Linked DNA regions of Homo sapiens: region 1 is linked to region 2. Evidence: fine-mapped expression QTL. A gene starts in region 2. The other region holds a variant in brackets. All regions are shown on one strand. Distances are from middle to middle.

The links. PIP is the estimated chance that this variant, and not a neighbour inherited with it, causes the effect. A credible set is the group of variants that fine-mapping cannot tell apart.
Region 1: its variant is the best candidate, but not a certain one, in a credible set for the expression of ARHGAP20 in monocytes after LPS (Quach 2016, PIP 0.61).

Annotation. Positions count from the first base shown.
Region 1 is chr11:110,483,711-110,488,104 of GRCh38, forward strand. No RefSeq gene overlaps it. Among named protein-coding and RNA genes, the nearest start is that of FDX1, 56 kb to the left of the region's middle. The variant T/C (reference allele first, on the strand shown) is at 2,568.
Region 2 is chr11:110,710,433-110,714,826 of GRCh38, forward strand. It overlaps ARHGAP20 (Rho GTPase activating protein 20), which reads right to left and starts at 2,005. Exons shown (of 15, transcript NM_001384657.1): 1 at 1,695-2,005. The coding sequence starts at 1,799. RefSeq lists enhancers at 224-869, 1,852-2,353 and silencers at 1,877-1,936, 1,957-2,116.

The DNA of each region.
Region 1 (4,394 bases), 230 kb before region 2:
AAAAATGGGGAAAATATTTTAATGGACACTTCATCAAGAGAGAGATATGGATGGTAAATAAGCACATGAAAACATGCTCAGGAAAATGCAAATTAAAATCACAATGAGATGCTACTACATATCTTTAGAATATTTAACATTAAAAAGATTTACAGTATCAAGTATTGGTTAGGATATTGAAGAATTGGAATTCTTATATGTTGCTGGAATGACCACTTTGGAAAACAGTTTCTTAAAGAGTTCAACAAAAAATATAACTCAGTAATTCTGTTCCTAGTGGAATGAAAACAGGTGTTCATACAAAGACTTGAACAGGAATGTCCAGAGCAGCTTTATTGTAATAGCCCCAAACTAGAAACAACCCAAATATCTATCAACAGGGGAACAGATACACAGATTTTTGACATATTCATATAATGAAATACTTCTCAGCATTAAAAGGAATAAACTACTTATACATACTAAAACATAAATGAATCTCAAAATAACTACAGAGTGAAATATACCAGACAGAAAGGGAGTATATAGTATATGATTCCATATATAGATATACGATTCTAGAAAATGCAAATCAATTTATAATGACAGAAAGAAGTTGTGGTTGCCTGGGTAGGCAGGGATTGGATTGGGAGCTTACAAGGAACACAAAGAAACTTTGGGGTGATAGACATTTTTACTATCTTGATTGTGGTGATAGTTTCAACTTATTGTATACTTCAAATATAGTTTATGTAAATTATACCTCAATAAAGCTATTGTTAAAAATCTGCTTTAGACAGATTTTCTCTAAAGTCCTATTTTTGGCTTCCCACCACTGTCAAGTTCTTCTCTTGGTCCCTTCCCCATCATCACTTGATTCTTCTCTCTTTTCCTTCATTTTCCACCTCCCCTCCCACCCTCTGCATTTCAATAACAGAGTTCCTCTCCTTGTCTCATGCTGAGCAGTTATGCTCTTGTTCTTGAACTTGAATTTGTGACTCCAGCTCACAAATGGACCCTTGCCTCTTATCATCCATCTTGTACTTCAGTACGCAAGTGCTGGAGCCAAAGTGCATGGATTCAAAAGCTATACTCTCCTACTTCCTAGCTGGGAGCTTCAGCAAGTTCCTTGCCATCTCTATACTGTGAACAAATGTGAACCTAAAAACGTCCTTCGAGATGGATCCTGGGTGGCTAAGCCAGTCCTTCAAGATGGAGCCCAGGTGGCTAAGTAGGCCTAAATTTAAAAATAAAGCCAAATGGCCATACTCTGAGTTTCCAGAAAAATCTCACCTCTGCTTAACTTGGGGACTTCAGAGCTCACCAGAGCCAACTAATCAGGGCTCAGCTATATCAACCAATCAAGGATCAGTTGTATTGACCAATCAGAACTCAGCTGTGCCAACCAATGAAAACTAGGCAAGTTTGAAACTTTCATTTGGATAAACAGATTTGATTGGGTAGCTGGGCAGGAACTTTTGCTATAAAACTGGAAACTTCCCTTTGTTCTCTGGAACATGCCTTAATTTTACAGGTTTGCAAACTGTTATCTCCCACATGATAGTAAAATTAATAGTACTTGTCTTTTAACATTTGCTGTGAGGATTAAATGAGTTAATAAATAGAGAATGTTTAGAATATCTGGCATGTAGTGAGTATTCAATTATTATTATTACTATTATATAGTAATAGAGCAATTATTGTTACTTTTAGGACTTAAAAGCATTTTTCTAAGTTTAGAACAATTCCTCCCTTAAGGGGAATTATGACAGTAGAGAAAGAGTTCAGTAAATTATGGCCCATCAACTGAGTGGAATATTACATGTACCTTAAAAAAAATGATCCTTCCTATGAGTCTATAATAATTTCGAGAAATGCTTGTTACATGAAAATATAGTAGGTTCTATAATCATACATACAATGTCATCTCAACTATACTCAAAAGTCCAAACAAAAATTATGCACAGAATAAAGACTGAAAGGAATTATGCTAAAATATTAACAGCTACCTTTCATAATGGGGAAAAAAAAGTGTCTTTTTTCCCTCCACAAAGAATCCTCTCATTATTAGTGAATGCCTCTGCAGGGGAGCTGTGGACACCCTATACTTTTATTAGTTAACCTCTTATCTAGCCACGGCTCGGCAGGAAATACAGCAATGCAATCTAGGGTTGGAGGAATATGTTTGAAGGGGAGGAGAGAAGATGAAAGAAGAGATACATAAATGAGGAAGAGGCCGCTGTGGGGAAAATGGGAAATGCCAAGGAAATTTGTGCTTTCCCATTGCACCTGGATTCAGGAACATTCACTCTCCTGCAGCAGCATCACGAAGACATGTCCAGCCAGCCTGTTGCTGAAAATTATGCTGGTGCTGTCTTATGCAGAGATCCCTAAGGCAGAGGCCCGTGACGCCCATGGTGTCTGCTTATCCATTTCTCTTTGACTTGACACCTGTGTCTGTGGGAAAGGATATTACTCATTCATGATGGTAGCTGCAAAGACTATGATTAGATTATTAATAAACTGCAAAAATCATTTCCTGATCTTCCATCCCAAGCAGAAATTCAGCTTTTGTCACACTGACAACG[T/C]TTTGACCCTAGCTTCTCCTTTATCTATGCATATTTAGTTGCAGGGAGAAGAAAACCTTCCTCTTCTTTCCTGTCTCTTGCTCTGTGATTTTTGTGGTGAGTAACTTATTTTTCTAATCACGCATGTAGCTCATGAGCTGAAGCAATGCAAGGAGTTATCTTGGTTCTTGGGTGCTGGTTTCTGGTCAGCCAACCGTTTGTTGTCTGGAAGGGTTGGTGATTTTAGCTATATGTCCCTCTTAGTCAGACTAATTAGATCCGTAGCACTGTGAAGCACATCTTACCAGGGAATTTGCAGATCATGCTTATATCTATTAACTCTACCTCCAAGGCTAGGAAACAGGAGACTGCCCTAATGTCCATGGACACTCTTTCACTTTTTCTCCCTAAATCAAGAAAATGGAGCTTATATTATTTAGGCCGCCGTGTTGGAAATGTTGGTCTCACTCTTTGAGGGAGCCAACTGATGAAAAATATTTGGAACATTTCCATGGGGCAGCCTGGCTAGAAACCATCCAAAAATTGCTGACAGCCAGCCTGGGGTATGCCTACCTGGTCTCCCTCTGAGTAGCTCAGGGCCAGCTGGAGGGAGAGGGTGTGCCCAGTCACCACACTGCAACCCTGACAAAGGGAGGTCATCACTAAGGGCAATCTGAGGCTGTTGTATTCGAAACCAATTATTTCATTTTTTTCTTCTTTAACTTTTAAGTCCTGAGGTACATGTGCAGGATGTGCAGGTTTGTCATATAGGTAAATGTATGCCATGGTGGTTAGCTGCACAGGTCAACCTATTACCTAGATATTAAGCCCAGCATCCATTAGCTATTCTTCCTGATGTTCTCCCCTCCTACCCACCACTGACAGGCCCCAGTGTGTGTTGTTCCCCACCAAGTATGTCCATGTGTTCTCATTGTTCTGATCCTACTTATAAGTGACAACATGCAGTGTTTAGTCTTTTGTTCCTATGTTAGTTTGCTGAAGATAATGGCTTCCAGCTCCATCCATGTCCCTGAAAAGGACATCATCTCATCCCTTCTTATGGCTGCATAGTATTCCATGGTCAAAACAGTTATTTTAATTTTCCCCAATTATTAAAACATACAAAGTCATTTTTGCATTGGAAAATACAGAAAGAAAAATGCAGTTGTAAAACTTAATATTTTGGGCCAGGTGCGGTGGCTCACGCCTGTAATCCCAGCACTTTGGGAGGCCGAGGCGGGCAGATCACATGAGATCGGGAGCTCAAGACCTGCCTGACCAACATGGTGAAACTCCATCTCTACTAAAAATACAAAAATTAGCCAGGCGTAGTGGCAGGCGCCTGTAATCCCAGCCCTCAGGGGGCTGAGGCAGGAGAATCACTTGAACCTGGGAGGTGGAGGTTGCAGTGAGCTGAGATTGTGCCATTGCACTCCAGCCTGGGTGACAGAGCAAGACTCTGTCTCAAAAAAAAAAAAAAAAACCAAAAAAAAACCTTAATATTTTGTAATATTTTCTTTTGAAATATTTTATTGTCCTTTTTTCTACCATAGTCAAACAAATACAATGTATAAAATGTTTATGTCCTGCTTTTATTACTTCATGTGGCCTGAATATTTTCATATAGTGTTAAAGATACTTTGCAATAATCAGTTTTAATGGCTGCTTAATTTTCTCTCCTGCTGTAGTTTCTTTAGCAATTCTTCTATGGTTGGGCATTTTTCATATTATGAATAGTATGAGCCAGGCATGTTGATACACTCCTGTGGTCCTAGTTACTCGAGAGGCTGAGGTGGGAGAAATGCTTGAGCCAGGAGTGATCATGCCACTGCACTCCAGCCTGGGTGA
Region 2 (4,394 bases):
AGTAAAAAAAAAAGAAAAAAAGAAAAAACTGTTCAGAAAAATAAATCTTTGATTTTCTTCCAATTCCTTACGTTTACAAAAATAAAATGCTTTAAGTTTTAAAATTTATGTCAGTAAATGTAGGGCTAGCCTGATAAATTCACGTTTTATTTGGGAAGACTTGACTACACACACACACACTCCCTCCATCTCCGAAGGGGAAAAGCGACAAGGACAAACCGCAGCCTCAATACATCAAAGGCTGAGCTGGCACTACAGCCCATACATCATCAAGTTCACGGACACCCCTAGATGGCTCCGTGACACGGTCAAGGTCCTTGGGAACTCCCACACATTTCTATACTCGGCACACCGATCACCTCTCTTCAACTGACCTCTAGCCAACCTAAGATCCTGGTGGGAAGATTTATGAAAGGCAGTAAAATCAAGACAAGCAGGGAACCTGCGTAACCCCTTTAAGTCTCTAATGAAACAAATGCAATCCCTTAAGATATTTCTTAAGGAAAAGCTAGAAGATGCCTCTAATCGCAACTTGTTTCCAGAAAAGCTGGAAGGGCACCACTAAGACAAGGCAAAAAAAAAAAAAAAGGCAAAATATCGGAAAGTCTTATGCTGGAAGCGGGGGTGGGGAGGCGGGGGACAGGCAGACAGGGCTAGAAACACCCAAATCAATTCCTCAGGGAGCGAAACGGCAGAGGCCGGCAGCCCGCGGCCCACGTGCACTTGCTCAGGGAACCGTTCCAGCGAAACCTGACCCGGATCGGAATCCTCCCGCAGCACAGCGGCCGTGTTTATCGGAATGGAACGCTACAAGTTGTCACCTGCATCCCTCTCCCAGCTTTGACAGGGAACACGCGCTGCCCCCACGCCCACACCGACACCCGGATCCCTATCCAGCCCGGCCAGAGTCCCAGGGGCCAGGGACCAGTGCAGGGAGAAGGTCCCCCACCTCAGCCCTCAGGACCCCCAACCACAGCCCACCCGCCCCCACCCTGCTCGGTTCTAGGCCCAGCCGAACCTACATGTCCCCGTAGTGTCGAGCGTTATCATCCACAGTCGCCCCTCAAACTGTGACCCCCACCTGGGAGACCCGGAATCATCCAGGACCCTGGTGTGGGGGGCAGTACTCCCCATATCTGCCCCCCGAAAACTGCTATGGAGCAGCCGCGCCTCGGCGGGCAGGTGAGGGGGCCGAGCCCACCAGCGCCGCAGCCCCGCTGCCTACCTTCTTCAGCGCCGGCTGCCGCTCCCGGGCAGACATCGCCGGCCCTGACTTTGGGGCTGACACCGCCAAAGGGCAGTCAGTGCTCGCCCAGGCCACTTCGGGAGGCCCAGGGGCACGGCGAGGGGTCGGGGAAAGGCGATCGCCCACTACAGCCCGCGCGCCTAGACTGAGGGAGGAGCCGGGCTGCAGAACCGGCGGCGGATGGAGACGGGAGGGAGGCTGCGAGGTCGCTCGAGGAGAGACTAAGGCTCTAGAAACGGAGAAGCGGGCGCTCTGCGGGAGGCGGCGGCGCTGCCGCTGGCCGTCAAGGGCGGGAAGTGTTCTGGGACTCTCATTAGGGGCCGCGAGCCTCGAGCGTCAAATTCCCGCGGCGTCCGCCTAGCGCGCTGCTGTGGCGGGCGCGGAGGGCGCGCGCCGGCAGTGGGGGCTGCGGCGGCGGAGGGCACGGGCCCCCGCTCAGCGTCCTCACCTTCTTGGTGCAGCTGCCTCCCGCGAGCCGAGACACTCCTGTCAGGGAAGAGGAGCGCCCCGGCTGTCCCCCTAGAGTCTCCTGCTGGGGGGACATCGCTTCCATGAAGAAAATCTTCAAACAAATCCCAGCCCAGGAGGAGGCTACACGATCATGTCCGCGGGCTGCCGGCCGGAGGGGCGAGGACGCGCGGGCGGAGGCGCGGCTGCCGTGCTCAGGCAGGGAGCCGAGCTCCGGGTGCTCGCCGCGCGCCTCCCGTCGGGGCCATGTACCTCCGCCTGCGCTCGACACCGCGGGCTGGAGGCGAGTGCAGCGGCGACAGCCCGTCAGCGCCGCGGCCCGCCCCGCCTCGGGCCCGCCCCCTCCGCTCCGGGCGCCCTGCGCCGGGGCCCGCCCCCGCAGCCCTCCTCAGCCCTCCTCCAGCCTGGGCCCTCCTAGCCTCGTCCCAGCCTGCGGCGCGCCTGGCGGGCGTCTCTCTATATATGTTAGCACACCGGCCACCGGCTGACCTTTTCGGTCTGTGACTCCGCGTGGGTGCAGCCCGCAGGAGCTCATCGGCCTGTGTCACGCACGGGGGCCTCTAGTGCACGGACACGCGCCTCTCCCGCCACCTGCCCACTCCCACCAGACCCCATCCCTTCCCGCGCCGTGCCCGCGGCGGAAGGCGCCCCTGCAGCGCGTGCATCCGCGGAGCGGTGGCGACCTCAGCCTGAGCAGAGGAGTTGCAGTGATTCCTGCCTCGCTTTCAGCGGACTGCGGAGGGAATCCCCCACCCCACCCCACTGGGGATAGGGTGGCACGTCGCAGAGTGTCGCAGCTGTACAAATTTGGAAGCCCACAGCATCGCCTGACCTCTTGTGCAATCCCGAACGCTAGCCTGTTCGGGTAACCCTGAGTGGGCTTCTGCAGCCGGTCATGTCAGCGGCCCCTGCACATTTGCACCCGCGGTTTCCGCTGTCTGCAGGCTGCAGAGACGGGGGCATTCCAAACGTGAAAGAGCAATGAAGGAAAATGCAGACAGAGCGAGGACGCCGAAATTTGGCTAAGCTATTGAGAAGGCTACAATATGTGGAAGTGTTTATCAGATATCTGCGCCGAGAGCATAACTTCCTGTCAGCCCAAATAGAGGCAAAAATATTTTAAAGGCCAAAGAATAATCAGAGGGAGAGGATTTGGAGCTGACCCGCGTTGAGCTGAGTGTTGCTGCACTTTGCGGGGCTGGTTGACTGGTACGGATGATTCGGTAGATGGCATTCTTCCCTTGGAGTCAGGACTAGAGAAGCAGTGGCGGATTAGTGAGGAAGGACACCACGCTATGATATTAGGTTGTGGAAGGGGTTTGGTTTGCTTTTGTGGTAAGAAGAAAAAAATCGAGGTTCCTGCCAGGTTAGGCTGTTATTAGGACAGGTTGTAGAAGAATAGGGCTCTGGCCGGCTCTGTTCCAAGGAAGGGATGCTGTCCAACACACACTCGCGCGCGCACACATCACCACCATGCCCAGGAATGGTTTATTGTGGAAATAATAGGGGGAAAATGTTCCAGCCCGTTTTAAGCCTTGTCCACCTCACACTGTTTAAAGTAGGCTTACATAGGCTTTATAAATCACACACACGTATAAATCACACACACGTATAAATCACATGTATGATTTGTAAATCATCTATTATTGTGTTTATGTATGTGTGCATATACACACACAGTTTTTCATGGCTACTCTCTTTTTGCAGCTGAGACCCATGTGCAGCGACAGGACTTTGCCCCCACCATAGAGTTTGTCATGAATTCTACACGCAGAGGGCTTTGCAGTTCCTTTCATTCCTTGCTGAAATCATCCACTTACAACTCGTTAGCCTCTTTTGGTTCCTATCATAAATGCACGCTCCCAATTTTCCTTACTCTGTTTTATTTCGATAACACTTATCTCCTTCTAATATATCATGTAATTTACTTAGTATGTTTAGTGTTTATTATCTATATCTCAGAGAAATGCAAGCTTCCAGAGGGCAGGAATCTTTTGTGGGCTTTTGTTGTTGTTGTTGTTATTGTTGTTCTTTGTCGTATACCAAGTGCTTGAAGCAGTGTCTGGTGCAATAAATGTTCGTTTGCTAAGGGAATTAATGAGGCATACAAGGGTTATGAGATAGATCTTAGAAGGGCCAGACTGGTAGAGTTGGTTGTTTCACTCAGAGTGTCCCATGTTTCTGTTTGTGATCTTCTTTTTTGCACAGGTTTGATCTGTGATCAATACTACATGTTCCAAATCAAAGTAGTATTTTACTGCAGATTTGGAAAACTCACTCTTACTTCTTAATTTTTAAGTGCTTTTACTTCAAAACCCATTAGTTTTGGTTTGCATAGAAAACTGTCCCATACCTAAAGAAAACTGACTTTGCTCAGATTAATGCTATCACCAGAATCGTGTTTTAAGAACACAAATTTGATCACATCACTCCCCTGATTAAACCCTTCTTTGGCTCCTTGTGTTTACAGAATAAATTTCAAATGCCATAGTATGATATGCAAGACTGCCTATAAACAGACATCCTTGCCTCCACTTATTTCTCTTGTCATTTATTGCTCCTCTTCAACTCTCACCCTATTCCCTGTCACATTGAATTCGCCAAGAAGTCACCTTCCAAGAACTCGCCTTGCCTTCTCACATCTTTGTGACTTTGAACCTGCTGTTTGCATTGCGTGGGA